2 linked regions of the Homo sapiens genome follow. The protein of the gene in region 1 interacts with the protein of each later gene in a pairwise test. Each region holds a gene or a part of one and is shown on either strand. Other genes may lie near its edges.

The links.
Region 2: the proteins of CPNE4 (region 1) and NECAB1 interact in binary tests that used the Homo sapiens proteins (3 or more experiments, as listed by UniProt).

What each region holds. Positions count from the first base shown.
Region 1 is NC_000003.12:131,546,997-131,557,366, forward strand, and holds part of CPNE4 (copine-4), read right to left. Parts: intron 8,556-10,370; coding exon 8,501-8,555; intron 5,496-8,500; coding exon 5,444-5,495; intron 3,085-5,443; coding exon 2,951-3,084; intron 1-2,950.
Region 2 is NC_000008.11:90,912,305-90,922,674, reverse strand, and holds part of NECAB1 (N-terminal EF-hand calcium-binding protein 1), read right to left. Parts: intron 5,184-10,370; coding exon 5,047-5,183; intron 1-5,046.

The sequences.
Region 1 (10,370 bases):
AAAATAAAATAAAATAATGGTCACATCCAAACCTTATTCCTAAATCTTGCATCTATGAAGGTTCAAATTTGCTCCAAGACCTCTGTGGTCAGAAAGAGATGCATTTGGGGAAGCCTTTGCAGGGCCCACGCACTGGTGGAAATGTTGGTCTATAATCCTGAGAAGTGTTGGTGGTTAGCCAGATGCATTGGCTCATGCCTATAACCCCAGAACGTTGGGAGGCTAAAGAAGGAGGATTGTTTGAGCCCAGGAGTTTGAGACCAGCCTGGGCAACATAGCAAGACCCCACCTCTACAAAAAATATAAAAATTAGCTGGGCGTGGTGGCACATGCCTTTGGTCCCAGCTATTTGGGAGGCTGGGGCCAGAGGAATGCTTCAGCCCAAAAGGTTCAAAGCTGTAGTGAGCCATGATTGTGCCACTACACTTCAGCTTGGGTGATAGACCAAGACCCTGTCGCAAAAAAAAAAAAAAAAAAAAAAAAAAAAAAAAAAAAAAAAAAAAAACCTAATAGTGTTCATGGCTTCTGAAAAGAAGAGGAAAAATGAGCAGAGAGGAGTCATGATTTTCTTAGCTTTCACACCTGGAAAAGACTTGGCTTGGATTAAATCCTCAGCATTACTGCTGGACAAGATCTCAGCTTACAGAGTGTCTCTGCCCAGCATAAAGGCTAATATATCCACAGTTTTATATATTCACTATTCTAAAGTAATTATTTGAAGTAACACACACTTAGCTCCCCAGGGTCTCCAGTCCTTTTCACAGTCAAACCACCGGTTAGTGATTTCAAGAACATGATGTAATGAACAGAGGAGATGAGAGAACATGCCCCACAGATCAGACCCATTTGTTTCTTATGGATAGCTATGGGTCACCTGATGGATGTTGTGTAGCAGATTGAAACTGTGGTCAACTATGTTAATAAAAGGACATGGAAAAATTATGAGTCTAAAACAAAATTTTGCTTCAAACTTCCTATTCCCTTGTAGGAATTGCTCATGTCACTCAATGACCCAAGCCCGGAGTAGCTGAAGATGATAATGAGATGTATGGAAGGGCCAGTGGACTGAACCAAAGACATGCAGTGACTGTTGTTCTCTCTAGGGACCTTGGGAATTTGGATCTTTTTAAGTAGGAGAGACTTCAAATTATAATGAAAACAGGAACACTGTATTTTCTGGCGTACAAGATGTGCAATATTTAAGATACACACCAGTTTTACAAAAGAAAATGTAAAGTACTTTTCATTATATATATATATGAAAAGTAGAGTGGCTTTATATGCGTTCTTTAAGTAGTATTTATTAAGCATGTACTGTGTGCAGGCATTGTTTTGTGTACTAGGGATATACTAGTGAACAAGTCTTATTGTAGAGCTTCCATATGAAAGTAGAGAGACATAAAATATACAGGTTAGTAGATGCACCTAAAATATTTCAGATGATGATGGGTACTAAGAAGAAAAGTAAAGCTGAGACATGGTGCGGGTGGGTGGGTTGGCTATTTTAGATAAGGTAGCCAGGGGGAACTTTCAGAGGGGTTGAGAGTTGAGAAGAGATGTTAACACAGTCAGAGAATGGATCATATGGAGGTTTGGGTGAGAGAAACCCTGGCAGGGGAACAGTAAGTGAAAAGGCCTCAAGGTGGGAATATATTTGGTGTGTTTGTGGAACAGCAAGAAGGTCAGTGTGGCTGAAATATAGGGAGCGAAAGAGAAAATGATAAGAATTAAGATCAGAGAGGTAGGCAGAGATTAGATCCTATAATGTCTTCTAAGCCATATCAGGGAATTTAGATTTTACTCCAAGTATGATGAGAAGTATTAGAGAATTTAGAACAAAGGAATGCTGCAATACTAATTATATTTTTAAAAGATCAATCTGGTTTCTGCATGGAGTGCAGATTATAAGTGGGAAAAAGTTAAGGACAGTAGCTAAAGGGCAAAGCAGAGTCAAGGGGGAGATATTAACTTAAAGCAGGAGATATTATTGAATGAGTACTTGTTAATGGGAATGAGTCTTCAGTACAAAGGGAAGTAGAAAAGAAAACAATAGATGATAGGAGAAAGAGCGAGAATATAACTGCAGAGTCAAAGTTCCTGGATAATTCAGAGATGTGCTCAAGTACACAAAAGAAGATGTTGACATGAGGTAGGAGCATGGTCCTCCATCCATTCTAACATGAAGGAAGGCTGAGAACATGAAGACAGTGCAAGAAGGTTAGATGAATTGATGTAAGAAGATAAGGGAGTAGTATTTTTTTAAATAAAAACTCAGTACCCAGGATAAAATTACAGAGCAAACTTCAGACATTGGTAATATTCCACTAAATCTGGAAAAAATCATAAAGCTAAAAAGACATGTATTAATGTTATTAAAATAAATACAGAAGTTATTGTGGTAATATATTTACTTCTAAAATATTAGGGGCAAAACTCAAACTCTGGTCTTGGTTTGCATTTTTCTTAAGAAAAGCAATAGAATATGAAACCAATTTTTGCTGTGATGTTTTGTGCTGCTGCGCTTTACCACCAGGAGGCAGAATCATCCATTGTTTTACTTCCATGGTGCTTTGCTTCCATCTGTAGTATGGGTACCTTAAAAAGCAAGCTTATTTTTAAACCTTTCTTTTTTCTTTTCAAGGACAGGAGGTGGATATGACATACTTTAGTGAATATAGTAGCTTCCATTGTTGAGTTTCTCCTGTGTTCAGACAATGTGGTAGACATTTGACATGTGTCATCTCTTAGCCTCACAACCCAGCAAAGATGGGTTTGATTATCCCCATGTTTCAGATGTCAAGACTGAGGATAGGAGGAGGTTAAGTCATTTGTCCAAATTCACACAGGGAGAAGTGTTGGAATTTATTGTTAGAGTGAGATGGGTCTTACGGCCAATATCCAGGTGAGGAAGAGTAAGCTCCCCTTAGGAGGCAAATAGCCCCCTCCTTACCGATGCCTCCTTGGTGTTAGTTTCCTCTGACGCTGACTTGGCAACCTTCTGGATGATGGGGGCAATGTTGGTGGGACCGTAGAGTTGGAGCTTAGGAAGACAGCTCTGATAGGCTTCCACAACTCCTTGAATTCCTGAGGTGAAATTGGCAAAGATCAACAGCTCCAGAGTCACTCCAAATATATTTATAGCCAAACACACACAAAAGTAAAGCATTAAATATCCCAAATAGTCCTTATCAACATCATGTTTATGTTCTTAAGATAAAAAGGAATACCACATTGCTAGTGTTGCTGTCTCCTTCCCCACTGAAATCATTCTCCTCTTTAAAAGCTAAAGTCAAAAGCAACGATTTCCACAAAATTTTCCCTAATATCCTACTTTATATATAAGATTTCATTCGCTCCTCATAGCATAATGAAATAGATGTTATACCCATTTTATAGGTGAAGAAACAGAGGCTTAGAGATGTTCAATGATCTGCCCTGGGTCACATAGCAAGTGTGTTCAAGACTCAGGATTTAAACTTGGGTCTGCCTGGCTCTAAGCACTGTGTTCTTAGCCACTAGCAAGCTAGCTTCAATGTTGCACTTGTTTCCACACGATCTTGTTGACTCTAGTAGATACTACCCGTGCCCTCTATAAGAGTCAGGAGTTCCCATGACCATCTCTCCAGATGTTATACTCTGCGGGCAGGAATCATGACTTACTTATTTTTTGTATTTCCCCAAAGAGCTTGAGGCAGTATCGAGCAAATGTAATGCTCACCAAGTGTGTGATGAATGAGCAAAGTGGCTGATATACTCATCTCCTGGGCACTGAGTACAGATAAGTGATGGTTATCATCACGGACAACCCCTCATTTAAAAGGGGGCTTCCATCCTGAGGCCATATGAGCCCAGGAAATAGAAAAGGATGGGACTCTGCCAGGAGAGGCAGTCCTATCTATACAGCTTCTCCTAGTACTTGATACATCTTGACTGTACATTTCATGTTATCATTCTGATCCCACAGCAATAATCTCATTACAAATGATTTTTATTCAAATGGCTTCTCTTGTTGTCTGTGCCTGTGTTATTGCTTGCCTTCCCCTATTCAGCTTATCCTTCTATCCCTTTCTATTCTGAAATAGCACATTAGTCCTGTTTTTGGCCAGAGGGATCCACACAATTCCCTCCTGAGATTATTCTCCATAACCACCATGCACTGCAAAATAGCTCTTGGGTATTTTAGATGAGCAAGTTCTGTTCTGTTCTGCCCTTACATACATGCTCCCAACCTCATTGGCAATCCTGCACCCACTTGGCCCTGCCCCAAAGCCTATCATTCTAAAGACAGATGCCAAGTCATTTTGCAGTCTGGTTCTGAAGTTAAGTGATGCTGAATAGAAGCTCCTTATGTTTTTTTGGTTCTTGAGCTTTTGCCTAAGATAAGCAAGTTTGATTTCCTCTTGAAAAGTATCAGGCAGATGAATTCTAAGAGTATAAAACAGGTGAATACCAGGGTTTATATTTCATTCTGCTGTGGGGGAAACCACTCTTACAGTTGCAGAATGGGGGTGGTTGGGGATGAGGAAAGTCTAATCCATAATAAACTGAGGATGAAGAATACATTAGTGGAAAAAATGGCAGAATGGAGATTGGGTCTTGGAGGTTACTGTGTTCAGACTCAATGGTATTGATATCATATTCTTGGCCATTAACTGCTAGATGCCTTACACACTCTACTGGATCTGAATTAATCCTGATTTAGCCTCCTTCCTCCTTGACAAGAAGAGAGAGATATGGACATTTCTAATGCAAAAATGTCTTATGATCTTCATAGCAACATAGGTACTTGGCTCTGTTAGAAAACAGAAAAAATCATTCTAGAACAAAATTTATTATAATAATTATTATCATAGTTTCAATATCATTATTTTGTGAAATCATGTCAGAGAATTCTGGCTGGAAACAATGGAACATGAACCAGAACCTTTGAGCAGGCTTTCTCTGGCACAAAGCCATGATGCTGCTTGTTCAAACTCGCTGAGGCCATGTCCTTGGCCGATATGCCGAAAGTGGGAAATGATTTCCATGTTCCCCCCTCTCCTTATATCGGCACAGAGATGAAGTTGTGAAAAAAAAAAAAAAAAAACACTTGATGAAAATTTGGAAAACAGAAAGAGGGATATTGTATCACTGCCTACCAGGTGAAGTTTCATTTATTATTATTATTATTATTATGGCCCAAGGAATCCCAGACTGGGATCAACATTATTGCCATACACTCAAGACCACCTCTTCTGCATTCTGTCTTTTCCAGTTCTTATTTTCCTGCTCTGTTATCATGGCTTTCTCTTGCCTGTGGAGTAGCATGGTTTATGTTGATACAGAAAGCAGAGATTCTGTGGACAATCGTAACTAATATGCTACACCAGCAGAGATGAACTAAAATGGGAAAGCTGCAAAGGGAAGGACTGTGACACTGGCTTTCTTTCACGTTGTGCTTTACCTGCACATTCTGGGTTGTCTTCATTAAAGTTGATTGCAAAGTCATGAGAGACCTAGACACCGATTAAAATTTAAAAAACAGGAAGAAAGAAGAATTACAACTTTAATCCAGTAAGAAGGCACTGGGGTTTAGAGTTTGCAAACAAATGCCCATTATATTCATTATGTGTTAAGCAGCAGGAACCATTTCAAGCCTTTACACAATCAATATGAGATGGAGGGTGAATTCTAAGCTCCCTGTGGAGTTGAGGTGACAGGAATATTTTCTAGAATCAGATAAATGCTGTCAGGAGGGGAGAATAAGGCTTATAAAAAAATCCAAGAAAAGATTTCAGAAAGATAACTTTGAATAGCTGCTAGTTAGAACTGGCCACAGACTGGAGGCTTAGATTTGGCTGAGCTCTATTTGGACCCAGTGATTAAAACAAAAATAAAAACAAAAAAACTCAATAACCCAAGCTGTCTGCTGAAGATAGCGATGGTTATAAAAGCTTCAGCTAAGCAGTTGACACTTAAGAATCATTAACATGATATGCAGAACTACAGGGCAGGAGGATTTTCACATACCTACAGGTAAAACAGACTGCACTCTACTTTTGGAAACATAGTAAAGTAATATACTTTGTAATATTTCAACACAAATTCCTCTACCTGGCAGAACCTATGCACAAGGTCAAATAACATATTGTTTACTTTTTTCTTTCCGAAAACCTGATAAAACAAGATAGATGTTCTGGCATCTGGACATTTTTATTGAATCATTTGGTATTTTATGGAGAATTTCATTTCAAAGGATATTTCCAAGCTCTGACTCTTTTGGGTATCCATAAATTAGGTCACTGTGTTAAAAGACACCTGTTTTCTTAGTGGGAGGTGATCGGTGATGCTCTCAGTGCTTATCCTAGTCCCTTGCTCTTAGCACTTCCAGGTAAGCCAGCTGACTTCAGTCATCTTATTTGCTTTGTTTACCTTAAGTTTTTTCTTGGCCTCCAGGGCCTGCCTTGCTTGCCCAAGTGACAGGCTAAAAGTGACCCTTGGGAGTAATCAGTAATTAACAGGAGGTGATGTATACATATCCCAGCTCCCTTATCCCTTGGGGTCCATGTGTGCTGTATATTGTCTCCTAGGGTTCTTCAGCAGAGTTAAGCACCAGTTGCCAACAGCGGTAACTGACTTGATAATATACTCTGTGCTGACTTCCACTTCCCAACCTCTATTGTGGTTTCCCTCACCTTTTAAATAAACTATTTGCATCCAAACCCTTGTCTCAAGATCTGTTTCTGAGAAAGTGCTAACTAAGAAAGAGAGGTGCTTGTGTTTCAGTTTCAATGCATACTTTCAGATTTTGTCCTAAGAAGTAAATTGTGGCAACCTTGTAAACTCTCCTGGGGGCACCTGAGCTGCTCAAATCATCAGTGCTTGTCTGAGGAATGGGAGAAATTAGGGGACCCGAAATGGGGAAATGTGAGAGATGCCTATTGAAACAAGAATAACCAGGGGATTTTGCTGACAGGAAGGATGGAGTTAGGGGATCAAGTGAACAAGAGGACTTCAGAAAACAGCAAGAAAGATTAGTTACTCCAGGAAGGGAACCAAAAAGATGTCATTAGTGAGAAAAAGGTATGGTGCATAGCTCTGTCCTCAGCCCTGTTGGGCCAACCTGAGGCTGGAAGACCACCTGGTGGGGATGTGGTGAAAACTCAAGAATCCCTGGGTAGTTGGGCTGATGGCTATTGAGCTATTCAGCAGCTCTATGAAGAAAGTGGGCATTCACCTGTTTACATTCCCGATTTGAAGGGGCCTATATCTCCTCAGCTCCAGCTTATTCTTGTATCGGTCATCTTTTAATCTTAGTGTTGCCAGGCCTTTCAGGTTTTCAAGAGAAACCAGAAATCTGACATTTTATATATGCAATTGCTGAATTCGTTTTTTAAAAGTGTGTCAAATATAACATATTTGTGGCCTGAATAATGTCTATAGGCCACCAGTTGATAACTCTTGTTCTATATTCTTTCTCTCCACAAGCTGTATTTCTAATAAATGCTTCTAGAATTATGTAGCTATGCCCAGCAGAAAGGCCAGTGTGGAATACAAGGCAAGAAAGAAGGAGAACAGGTCAGGGAGACAAGCGATTCCATCCACTATTCACTCTAGGAGCAACAGGGATATTGATTTCCTCTTTCAAAAAGGATACCTAAGGGGAAAGCCCTTTATATGATGGCTCTAGTGAGGGAGCAAATGTCAGCATCTACCTCCTCACCTGTGGCTCAGACACAGCCAGTAAAAGAGAAATTGAGGATTGGGCAGTGTTGTTTGTACTTAGCTCAGACCTCAGAGGCACTGGTAAGGTGGAGGCTGGGAGAGGTACCCTGCTGTCTCTCCAAGGCCCTGTCCACCTAGTGGGCACGAGTTCTCTGTGGAGAATGTTCTACAGGAGCATCTAGAATATCACAGTAGTGTCTCAGCCTCATTACAGTGCAAATTTATCTACACACAATCTTTGCCTTTTTTCTGTCATGAGAAATCATTATCAAAACCAAATAGGATTCCAACGTCTTCAGAAGAACATTTCAGCTTCCCAATTCTCTAAGTCATAATAGTTCTTTCTTCAAAACTTCTCTGTGTCTCCCATACAAGACTTGGACTCGGAGACTTGGGATAAGAAAGTCTGTAGACTCCATTGTCACGGACTTTCCCAGTTGGCATTGCCAATAGAATTCTATTTCCTAGGGGATATACGAGTGAATAGGTTCTGAGCCCCTGGAGATCAACTTCTTGAGTGTTTTCTCAGACTCTGACCACATTTATAAGAAACTAAACAATGAAACTCTTCATCTGGACCTCTGAGAAGACCCATCCAAAATACCAGGAGATAGGGTTTCATCAAGAGACGGGCCCTGGCGAGTTAATCTCACTGATTCTGAAGACAATTTCTGACTCTGTAGGCCCTACTGACACAGTTAGGTCAGAGTCAGGAGTGTGAGACTGCTGCAAAGAAGAGCCAAGTTATCCTTTGACCACAGTGAAGTGGAAGAAGATCACATCTCCACTCACTCACCGTGTACTCTGGAGGTATCCTGGCGCCAAACCCAAAGGCAGGGAACATTTTGTCACTGAAACCAAAATGAAGAAAAGAAAAAACAAGAAGTTGCTTCATTTATTCATTTAATGAGAAAGAAAAACATTAACCTACATTACTAGGTTGCTAGGCCATGTTGCTATGCCAGTGCTGACTCATGCTTCTTGATTGTCTGTGGTGATGGGGGTAGCAATAGCATGGATAATTAAAATCAAGAAACAGCCCCTTAAGTTCATTACAGTCATTAGTCTACAACTTCCTCCCTTAATTTTTTTGCTAGATTCTATACTAAGAAATAAAATGGCCCTACCCTTTCATCAATGGCCTCCACTTCAACTTTCAACTTTGTTTCCTTTGAAAAGTGACCATGAACTAGGTAACTGTAATGGTTGACTGTGTTAGAACCTTTTGTATGTATCATCTTTTAAAATACAAGGAGAGATAGTTATTCCCCTTCTGCAGGTGGGGAAATGCCTTGAGAGGTAAAGTGACTTGCCCAAGATCATGCCACTAATTAGAGCTAGAGTTCAAATACAGATAAGACTGAATCGAAATGGATATTAAAAAGCAATGGGGCCAGGTGCAGTGGCTCACTCCTGTAATCCCAGAACTTTGGGAGGCCGAGGTGGGTAGATCACTTGAGGCCAGGAGTTCAAGACCAGTCTGGCCAACATGGAGAAACCCCATCTCTACTAAAAATACAAAAATTAGCTGGGCATGGTGGTGCACTCCTGTAATCCCAGCTACTCAGGAGGCTGAGGCATAAGAGAATTGCTTGAACCCTGGAGGTGGAGGCTGCAGTGAGCTAAGAATGCACCATTGCACTCCAGCCTGGGTAATAGACCAAGACTCTATCTCAAAAGCAAAAAACAAGCAGTGGAAAGCTTGTAAGTTTGGCTAATTTGACAGAGCTTGGTTCCCTCTACATGACTCATTGTGCCCACCACCTTATCACATACAAGCGGTGATAAGTTGTTTACATGTCTTTTCTTGTTTTTTGAACTCAAAGAGACCCTGTCTTTGGTATTAAAATCTTTATATCTCTACTGTCTTCTGCCTCAACTGCCCCCTGCCCCACCATTTATTATAGAACTTGTCATGGAATGTGTGCTCAGTAGTTAATGAGTACATAATCCATGAATTTTAATTATTAAAATGTGGCTATGAAAAGAAGGGAGGATTCTTGTGAAAACCTGAGAGAATCACTTACATATCCTTTGGTTTGAGTTATCTTATGCACACTGGAGTTTCTCTCTTAATTATGCATTCACATATATTGGATCTTAACTCTAACTTTACTGTACTATAGTTGACAGGATGGGGAAGAGAATAATTAACATTTATTGATGCATACAATGTACCAGCCCCCTGCTAGATGATGTATCTATTTATTAAATTCTCACACAATCCTGGAAGCTTCACCTACTTATTATTTCCATTTTACAGGTAAATAGAGCCTCAGAAAGGCTAAGTGGCCTATGGTGATTACCAAGGAGAATTGTGTGATTCCAAAGCCCATACCTTTCTGTTATACCATTATAATTTAATGATTATATGTAGTATTAAATGTGATTTTCTGCTAGTACTTCCAGTAATCTGGCCCCCTGCCTAGACAACAAATAAGACCCTCTTTAATCGAATAGTTGTGCTGTCGGGTGGCTGTCGCCATAGGGCTCTTGGCAAGGACGTGTCCTTCTCATGTCATCTACCTTTTATTTCTTCTCCCATTAAGAAATTAACTGAGATTTGTTCTTTGGAACAATTCCTACATTTCACTGTTCTTGGTATATTCAGTCAATTCAGGTTAGGGCTCACTGTCCTAAACATCTATAAGGAAAAAGGGATGAGC
Region 2 (10,370 bases), on another chromosome or scaffold:
CTAAAAACACAAAAATTAGCTGGGCATGGTGGCAGGCGCCTGTAATCCCAGCTACTTGGGAGTCTGACGCAGGAGAATTGCTTGAACCCGGGAGGCGGAGGTTGCAGTGAGCAGAGATTGTGCCCCTGCACTCCATCGTGGGCTACAGAGTGAGACTCCATCTCAAAAAAAAAAAAAAAAAAAAAAAATCCAAGTTTTTGGCAGCTTTGGTGGTCAGGGGAGTAGGTGATTAGAGCAATCCTCCTCTATGTTCAAGCTAAGGAAATCTAAGCTGTCTAAACTTTTATAACCACCTGTTTGTGAAATTAAAGCTTTTCCTCACTTCTATAATAGACAACTATCAAAAGGAGAAAAATAACTTTCAAGTCAAGAAGGAATTAATTACGTTCCTGGATATAGAAAAACTTTGGGAAATAGAGCAAACTTGTGGATTCCATTATAAAAAGGAAATCCACATATAATGAAAACTGTGTTCCTAGAAATTTAGTTTGTGAGGAAGAGAGTTTTATGTAAGAGAATAGGGGACCCCTAGGGGGAAACTTCCATATAACATACTTATTATTCTTGTCATTAGCTATTACGTACTTTCTGAACACATGGAATTAATGTAATTCACATTTAGTCAGTTTGCCAGGGCAGATACAAAGAGTGTTGTAGCATGCCATCTGAAAATTCCACCTCTGTGGCATTCCAGCTGTACACATCCTTTCTCTCTCAAATATCCATTTTTACATGAATAGACACAGACATTTTGCCCAACATGGCATGTCTACCTCATTACTGCAGGATGAATGATACTGTGTGATTCTCCCCGGGGCTGATAGATGGAATAGATGACTTCCCTAAATTTGCTATATTCCAAGGAGTCTTTGTATCCCTAGGTTTCACAAATATTAAATCCCAAAGTAATGTTGATGCTGAAGGGAAAGCAAATTATCACAATCCTAGAGATTTTAATGATACCTGCAGGTTGTAACTCTTGTTTTTTTGTTTTTTTTTTGAGATGGAGTTTCGCTTTTGTTGCCCAGGATGGAGTGTAGTGGCGCGATCTCTGCTTACTGCAACCTCCGCCTCCTGGGTTCAAGTGATTCTTCTGCTTCAGCCTCCAGAGTAGCTGGGATTGCAGGTATCTGCCACCACCATGCCGGGCTAATTTCTTTGTATTTTGAGTAGAGACAGGATTTCATCATGTTGGCCAGGCTGGTCTCGAACTCCTGACCTCAGGTGATCCACCTGCCTTGGCCTCCCAAAGTGCAGGAATCACAGGTGTGAGCCACCATGCCTGACCTGCAGGTTGCAACTCTTGACTGTGAAGGGCATCACAAAATCTTCCTTTACAACATAAAAAAACTGATGAATTGGCTGGGAGTGGTGGTTCAAGCCTGTAATCCCACACGTTGGAGGCTGAGGTGGGTAGATCACCTGAGGTCAGGAGTTCGCGTCCAGCCTGGCTAATATGGTGAAACCCTGTCTCTACTAAAAATACAAAAATTAGCTGGGCATGGTGGCAGATGACTGTAGTCCCAGTTACTCGGGAGGCTAAGACAGGAGAATTGCTTGAACCCGGGAAGCGGAAGTTGCAGTGAGCTGAGATTGCATCACTGCACTCCATCCTGGGCTACAGAGTGAGACTTTGTCTCAAAACAAACAAACAAACAAAAAACTGGTGAATTTTTGTTTGCATCTTTCTAGCTTTTAAGATCTTTCTGAACCCCAGATGACTGTTAGATTGGTCTCCTCAGTGTTCTGGGTCCTCACCAACTGCTCCTGTGTAGCACTCCTTTCACCTAGAATTCCTTTCATTCATTCACTTTCATATGTTTACCATGCAGTTGTAGTAAGTAGAGGGGACTTATGCAAAGTCTCTGCCATCTAAAAACTCAATGTCTAATGGGGGAGATAAACAAGGAAGGGGCTGAGATAAGTAGATATAAATAGAGGGCACTATGGGAATACATGGTAATGAGGTGGGAAGTATAAATGAGCAGTGAAGGCTTCCCAGAGAAAGTACTGTCCAATCAGTGACAAGACAGACGAGGAGAAGTGAGCCAGATGAGAGATGGGTAACATGAGATGGGTGAGACGGATCCCTCTAGAGAGAATCTCATTCTGCCATTAAAATTCATCCTAAAGTTCCACTTCAAGTCTTGTCTTCCCATCAGGCGTTTTCACTGGTCTCTTGATTGACATCATAGGAAAGGTATAGTTTTTCTCTCTCTATCTTTTCCTCACTGATGAAGGTCCCAGGGCTCTCCTCACTTTTGGTGGCCAGCTGATAGGAAGATATAGCCTTGGGAGAGGAGACACAGTCCCTTTAGGTTTGGGCATAATTCACGTGCTTCAGTCTGGTTCATCAGATATTACGGGCATAAATCCATAGTGGTACCTTATTTTCTGTTTGCTTGTTTATGCATTTCTTTATAAACCTCTCAGGGGGAATATCACAGATTTGGGGTGGGATTTTGTCATTCCTGGGTGTCTTAGTCAAATGCCATACAACAGCACCCCTTAAACTGCAGTCAGACATGTAACATTTCCCATTATTTGAAGCTGTTTTTGAGTGAGAAATCCAGAAGTAAAAGGTTCGTTAATCCTCTAGTGCCTTCTACTTTCCTTAAAGTCTATATTGTCATGCTCCTTCTCATTAAGCACAGCTGCTAGGCAGCTGCTGGCAGCAGTCACAAGAGTTCAAGGCTAGCCTGTGGCCTAACACAGAAAACAGTTGTTCATTAAACATTCACAGCATGGTGGTAAATGCAGAGCACAGGTTTTCAGGGGATGACTGTAGAAAAAAACAAAAGCGCAGGTGAAGAAGGGGAGTAGAGCACTTTTTCAAGCCTCTTCTCAGGTGGCAGATGACTGATTCTAAAAAGGGAGTTCCCATTTTATTTCCAGAAAGTCCAAACAAAAGAAACAACACAGGAGGCCTCATTTTTCTCATTAGGAACATGAAATCCATTTCACTGTGCTTCAAGACATTCAGTTATCCTCTGCTCAAAGCTGAGGAGGTGGGTTTTGCTTTTCTAAAGTGAATTGTTATACTTTGCCATTTGGTATAGAATCACCCAACGCAGTGAAAACAGGAAGTTTATGATGTAGAGGATGCTTCACAGATCTGCTAAAGAGTACTTCCCTGTGACAGTCAGCTGCATGGGCTCATTAGATTCTGGAATTACAGGATTTTTTGTTAGAAGTTGGTGGTGCTCACTCATTTTGACATTGTAAACACATGGTTGAAAATTCCACTATTTTGGAGATGTCCTAATAATTATGTATCAGTTAATTTGTTCAGGAAAATTGGTCCTGCAGGGTAGTCTATTATCAGCCTGTTCAGAAAACTTACTGTTTCCTTCTCTCTAATTTAAGATGTAAAAGTTAGATAAAGCACATCTATAAGTTTAAAGTAACACATCTGCCAAAATATGCCCCAGGAGCAAGAGTTTTGCAAGCTTCTCTAGCTTGCAAAGTATAAGCAATGACAACTCAGAAAAATATCAACTGTTGGCTGGGATCACCTTGATGTGTGCCCTACACATTTTTAGTATAGGTGTCTCTTAAGCATTAGTGCCTTTATTTATATAGCTATTGCAATATGACTACTTATTTTCTCAGTGATACCTATTGGTGGCATTGAATTTTGAAATAATTTCCATCATTCACTTTTCTCCATTTCCTGAAATAATTAGGCTTACTGAATTATCAGGTCTCCCAAGTATATCCAGGTTCATGTAGTCTGTAAGGGTCTTTCCCATCATTTCCACATTTTCAAAATTACACCAAATTAACAAGGAAGGGGTTGAGATAAGTAGATATAAATAGGGGGCACTATAGGAATACACGGTAGTGAAGTGGGAGGTATGAATGAGCAGTGAAGGCTTCCCAGAGAAATTACTGTCCAATCAGTGACCAGACAACCAAAGAGAAGTGAGCCACATGAGAGGTGGGTAACAGGAGGTGGGTGAGACGGATCCCTCTAGAGAGACTCTCATTCTGCCATTCAAATTCATCCTACAGGTCCAGTTCAAGTCTTGTCTTCCCACCAGGCTTTTTCACTGATCTCTTGATTTTGCAAGACAAGCTCAAATAGAGAAACTCCATGAAATTGACTTTCTCATCCTTCCATCCCTCTATCCATATTTAATCTTTTAATATTCTGAAAACAATTGGCAATGTATTTCCTCTTCTCTACGGTATTTATTATCACTTTGTTCTTTGCAGTATAGTTTTTGTGTTCATGTCTTATTTATATGATAGACTTAGGCTTCCTTAAGGATTGACATTATGTTAAATGTATCTTTATATTATTCATAATACTTTAAAGTCTTCTCCATCTACTAAATTTTCAATTAAAATTTGTTGACTCAGCTGGGCTCAGTGGCTTACACCTGTAATCCCAGCACTTTGGGAGGCCAAGATGGGTGGATCATCTGAGGTTAGGAGTTCAAGACCAGCCTGATCAACATAGTGAAACCCCGTCTCTTCTAAAAAATACAATAAATTAGCTGGACGTGGTGGTGTGTGCCTGTAATCCCACCTATTTGGGAGGCTGAGGCACAAGAATTGCTTGAACCCGGGAGGCAGAGTTTGCAGTGAGCCAAGATCGTGCCACTGCACTCAAGCCTGGGTGACAAAGTGAGACTCCATCTCAAAAAAAAAGAAATATATATATATACACACACACATATATGTATATATATACACACACACACATATGTGTGTGTGTATATATATACACACATACACATATATGTGTGTGTGTGTATATATATACACACAGACATATATATACACGCACACACACACATATATATATATATATATATATATATATATAGTTTACTAAATGACTGACAGTAAAAGAAAAAGTAGAATGGTCTTTTTAGAGGCAAATAATAAGGCAAGCAACCAGTGGAGGTCACTGTCATTCTTTTTAAATATATCAATTCTCTTTTTTAGTTTTTGCTAGTGTAAGTACAATGCCTCTCAATTGTTTTTTCATGAACATAGAGTCACTAAATAGACATCAGATGAAAACATGTAAATTGCCTTTCTTGACGGGTTTGCTCCTCAGTAGTTTCCATGGCACATTCCAGGGAATTCTGGAGAGACTGCAGCTGATTCAGGGTTTCCTTCAATAAAAATCTAGTTACGAATTGTTCCAAATTGGAGGCTTCTTGGTAGTCCTAAGGGTGACAAAACAAATGCAATTAGAAGTATGGTAGAAAAAAATACCCAGGATTTTTTTTTTTTCTTTTACCATGTACCCATCAATCCCAGATTGATCCTAGAGAGAGAGGGTGGAGAGAAGGGAAAAGATCTGTCGAGCCCTGGAGGCTACAGCATCACTCTCATCCACCCACCAGGAGATGAATAAAAAAGCTGCAGAAATGACTGGAATATCTTGCCTCCCAATATACCTGCCTCAAGATTAAGAAAAAGGACAAAACCAGCAGAGTTGCAAAATAGACATCTGTAGAAAAGAAAAAATAAATATCCGGTGGCGGAGGGGGAAGATCAGAATGTGACTAACTCAGGGTTTGTTCTATGTCTCATTTGAATGTTGACCACGCCATCATATATTTTCACTATTACCAACAAAATGCAACCATGTTTCAGCAATTGGCTTAATTCACTCTTGATGTATTTATTATGCTTGATCCGTATTATGCTGAAGACAAAGAAAATTATGTGTAGTTATTTAAAATTCAGAAAATGTTAGGATTGGAGTATTTAAATGGTTTACTAAATCTGCTTATGTCTTTCCTTCAGTAACTTTACCTGAGGCTCATTGACAATTAACTTCTAGGACAACACCTGAGCCACAAAAGCAGCATTCACTGAAACAGCCCCAGGGTCACTGCAGAGGTCACTGCAGACTGAATAAGTGTACTTGCCAAGCTTACTCAAGGTAGATGGGTGAGCTGTGGATGGTACCACCTGCTGTGCTTGTCTCCCTAAAGTCTCAGGGAGAACCAACAACAAAAACCAGGTTGGTGTGGAATAAGATGGTGACAGGGCCACTCTTTCAGATCATGGGACCAGCCAGTGAAATCTGATTTTCTAGAATCTTGAGTGGAAATGGTACATTCAAGTTCAGCCAAGGAAAAGATTTATTTGTCTCTGTCCCTAAACAAAATTTTTTTATGGCTGAAAAGACAAAACACAAAACGACTGAGGGTGATAACACAATACCACGGATCCTGATATGCTGAAGAAGCTTAGGGCATAGTTATAAACCCAAACAAGTAAGATTTAGGTATCTAACCTTCCTGGTTCTCAGTTTTCCCACTTATAAATCACTAAGTAACTCTGGCATACATTCCAACTCAAAAATATTCTGTGCTTCTATCAACTTTAATTTAGGAAGAATTGGACTATGGCCTCCTGATATAGTTTACTTTGGAAGTTTTTCTAATAGAAGAATAATGTAATAGCATAGAAAATCTCATTTCTTTCTCAATTTGAAATAGTAAAAAGTTTCAATCATCAGCCTCTTTTTAAGCTCATTCATTACAGGTGAACAACACAGGAAATTTTCTTATCTACTGAGATGGTTAATATTGAGTGTAAACTTGATTGGATTGAAGGATGCAAAGTATCGTCCTTGGGTGTGTCTGTGAGGGTGTTGCCAAAGGAGATTAACATTTGAGTCAGTGGACTAGGAGGGGCAGACCCACCCTCAATCTGGGTGGGTACCAACTACTACAGCTGCCAGAATGGCTAGAATAAAGCAGGCAGGAGAAGATGGAAGAGCAGACTTGCTGAGTCTTCTGGCCTTCATCTTTCTTCTGTGCTGGATGCTTTCTGCCCTCAAATATCAGACTCCAAGTTCTTTGGCTTTTGGACTCTTGGACTTACACCAGTAGTTTGCCAGGGGCTGTCAGGCCTTTGGCCACAGACTGAAGGCTGGACTGTTGGCTTCCCTACTTCTGAGGTTTTGGGACTCAGACTGATCCACCACTGGCTTCCTTGCTCCTCAACTTGCAGAGGGCCTATGTGGGACTTTACTGTGTGATCATGTGGTGTGAATCAATTATCCTTAATAAACTCCCTTCATATAAACATCTATCCTATTATTTCTGTCCCTCTAGAGAACCCTGACCAATACATCTACCATATATAATAGTCCTATTTAAAAATTAAAAATTGCAATGTCTTTAAACTCCATTTAAGAAACTAACCGTAAACTAAACATAACCATTACATGCTTATAATAATCTTAAGAGTTTTGGGTGAGTTAAATCAAGCTAAAAATATTCCAAATATTTAATTTGATCTCATAGCTTGCTATTTATTGGTTAAAAAAAAACTTCAAAAAATTCTCTCTGAATGAGTTTTTAAAATTGAGGAAGGCTTTTCTTTGAGGTTGAAAGAAAATGTGATGATAGAAAAAAAGGTGTGTTTGAGTCTTTTCCCACAGTTATTTCCATATCACCAATGGATATTTTAAAAAATAAAATTTATTAAAATGAAGATAAAATATAATTGCAAAGTCAGGGATTATACCAACTATTTTCGCATCTCAGTATATACTATGACTAATATAAAGCAAATGATAAAAAGTTTTATACTTATTTGTAGACTGCATTGAAAAATGAAGAAAGCAAACATTTACTGAGCAATAAAGCATAGCATTGTCCTTACTCTTTTCTCATTTAAATGTTAAATATTTGCCATGTCAGAATTATAGAAAAGAGATTAAAAAATTATAGTTAGTCATTTTAAACATTCCAGTCATTGCAATTAGGTTTCAGCTTCTTTGACAGAAAGGTCATGTCTTTTATTTCTGTATCCCTTATGGTGGAGTAGAGGTTCATTCATACCTGATAGTTTGCAGATACACTCCTAACTCTAAGAATTTATTGCATTTGCTATTGTGATCTTACATACAAATATTTTGATGATGTTAAAGTTAGATAATTAAGAAAAGTTAAAGTCAGACAACTGGCCACTCATCATTGCTCCACCATAGCAAATCAGAAAGTTATGATTAGGCTAACCCTCTTATCTCACTCTGATGAGAGTTTGATAACCTTACTAGTGACTCTGTAGGTAACATTGAAAAGTGGCAGAACCCAGTTGGTTGATACATTTCTTTGATATAAATGTTGATGCCTTGAAATTGAGAGGGGTGGTGGGTGGGTTTAAGGTTTGGAGGATTAAATTTTTTGAGTCAATTATGAAGGTTTGCTGTTTTATACTACCCCTCATTGATAAGGAGGAAAAAAACCTTGTTTTCTAATATTCCTACTTATCCTTCCAGACTCAGCTTGTAACACTGTCTCTGTACAGATGTTCCTTTCCTTGAACCACCACTTCTCTTCATAGGATTAGGAATACATCTTTCCACTTCTATGTATTTTTGTGACATTTCTTCCCTACCTAGGATATAGAATTTTTCATAGGATGTAGAATTTTTCATTGTGATGTTGTGATCTGTTGTTCATTTGTCTATCTTCCCCATTTTAGGCTAGCTCTTTAAGCACAGGGATTATGTCTTATTCATCTCTGCCTCCAGAGTACTCAGAACAAAATTGCCTCATAGCAGCTGCCCCATAAATGCTTAAGAAATGTGTGAGAAACCGGGTCCCACATGGAGAGTCAGGCACCAGAGGGAGTGTCCAAGCTCTGGGAAGTACTCTTGCCACTGGCTGGTCACCACCTGCCTCCCCCTGCATCCAGCCCTTGCTGGTTGTAGACATTACCACCCGACTTGCCCAGTCATGTGGGCTCTGCAATAAAGAAAAATACAGCTTTGTTCTAACAGACTGTTTGTCCTCATTTTATTTTCTGGACCATTTGTTAGTCTCCTTCCCTTCCCTTATTCTGGATCTCAAGGTTTGAGACTGCAGACCCGGGTGGCACAGATCCAATCTTCCTTCCCTTTTCTCAGATATGCAGCAGATGTTCCTTTGGAAGGCAGTGGCAAAAGAAGCAGATGGAAAATTAAATAGATAACAAGCTGGAAAATGTCAAATCCTGGCCCTTTTAATTCTCAGCAAATGTGTTGGTAGCGAAGGTACAAAAAGAGATTTTTTGCATTCCTAATTCCCCAAAAGACTGGTATGTTGGCATAAGGCATGCATTCCTTTGAGCAAAACCTGTATTTGAGAGACTGGCAGAAAGAACTCCTACAGACAAAATAAAGTAGTTTAAAAATGTACAGATTATACTCATTATTCAGATTTTGCTTCTTTTTTTTTTCAAACGCAGTTTAATCCTCCATGTCTATCAGAAAGAATATGGGAAAGTAAAAGTTAACGTTATACTTCTCAGATCCTAATAATGTTCATTCGTGTCATGATAATTATTAGTTACACAAATCATTAAGTGGAAATTGTCAACAAAGTAGTATTAATACCTCCATTTTTGTCTGCGGAAAGCCAAAATGTAAACATTTCAATCTACACATTTCCTTTGGTGGAGCTGGAACAGGGCTAGAATTCATTTGAGTAAAAATCCTAGCATTGGAAGCATAGTGCTTTGAATCAGGTTTCTTAGAAAACTGTCTGTGCATCTTAATTTTCACATCATTTCTCAGTAAGCAAGCTCTGCCCATCAGGTTGATAGAATCATCTGAGTTAATTAGGAAAATTAGAGCATCAGTCTTCCCTGTTTGAAAATCAATCAAGTCAGTGACATCTAGGGTTAGTGTATTCTTGTTTATGAGGTCAGATAACAATCACATTTAGCAAGGGGCACTGCTTCTGACTGTCTTTTGGATTAACTCCCTGCAGCTCTCGCCATTCTTGTGTAAGACATCTGCAGCAGCTTCTATAACAGAAAAAAAAATAACTTTACAAAGATAAGGTTGTCTTTTGCTCTTTTCTACTCTATCCACAATTATTACTTTTTAAAATACTAAGTGGGCTACACACATTATCTATGTCCCACTTCTTTTAAATATTCTCAGGCTTTTATTTTAAATGGCACATTTTTTTTTTCCAAACTGGGAGACCACTATATCAAATTTAAGCCTTATAAAAATACAAAAATAAAGAACTGGCTCTTACTTGTCCTAATAATGGACAGAGGTTAATTCCAGCTAGTCTTTGCAAACCTTAGATGGCAAAACAAGATATCAAAATAATTTCAGACTACAGATTCCCAAGGATTAAGGAAATGATAGATTCTCAGATTAGTGAACGAGGAGACAAAATTATAATTTTGGATTAAATATTATTAAACAATTAATAAATTGAAATAAATTCTGAGCCCTATCTTAACCAGATATTCTGTAGTTTGAAATAAGTTGATACTTTAGAGATGAATTATATTAAGACCTTTACGTTGACAAACTCCACTTTAAAGGGCTCATCTTAAAGTCATCAAGAACTTATTTTGTGTAGGATTCTTTCCTCTGGCTCCTC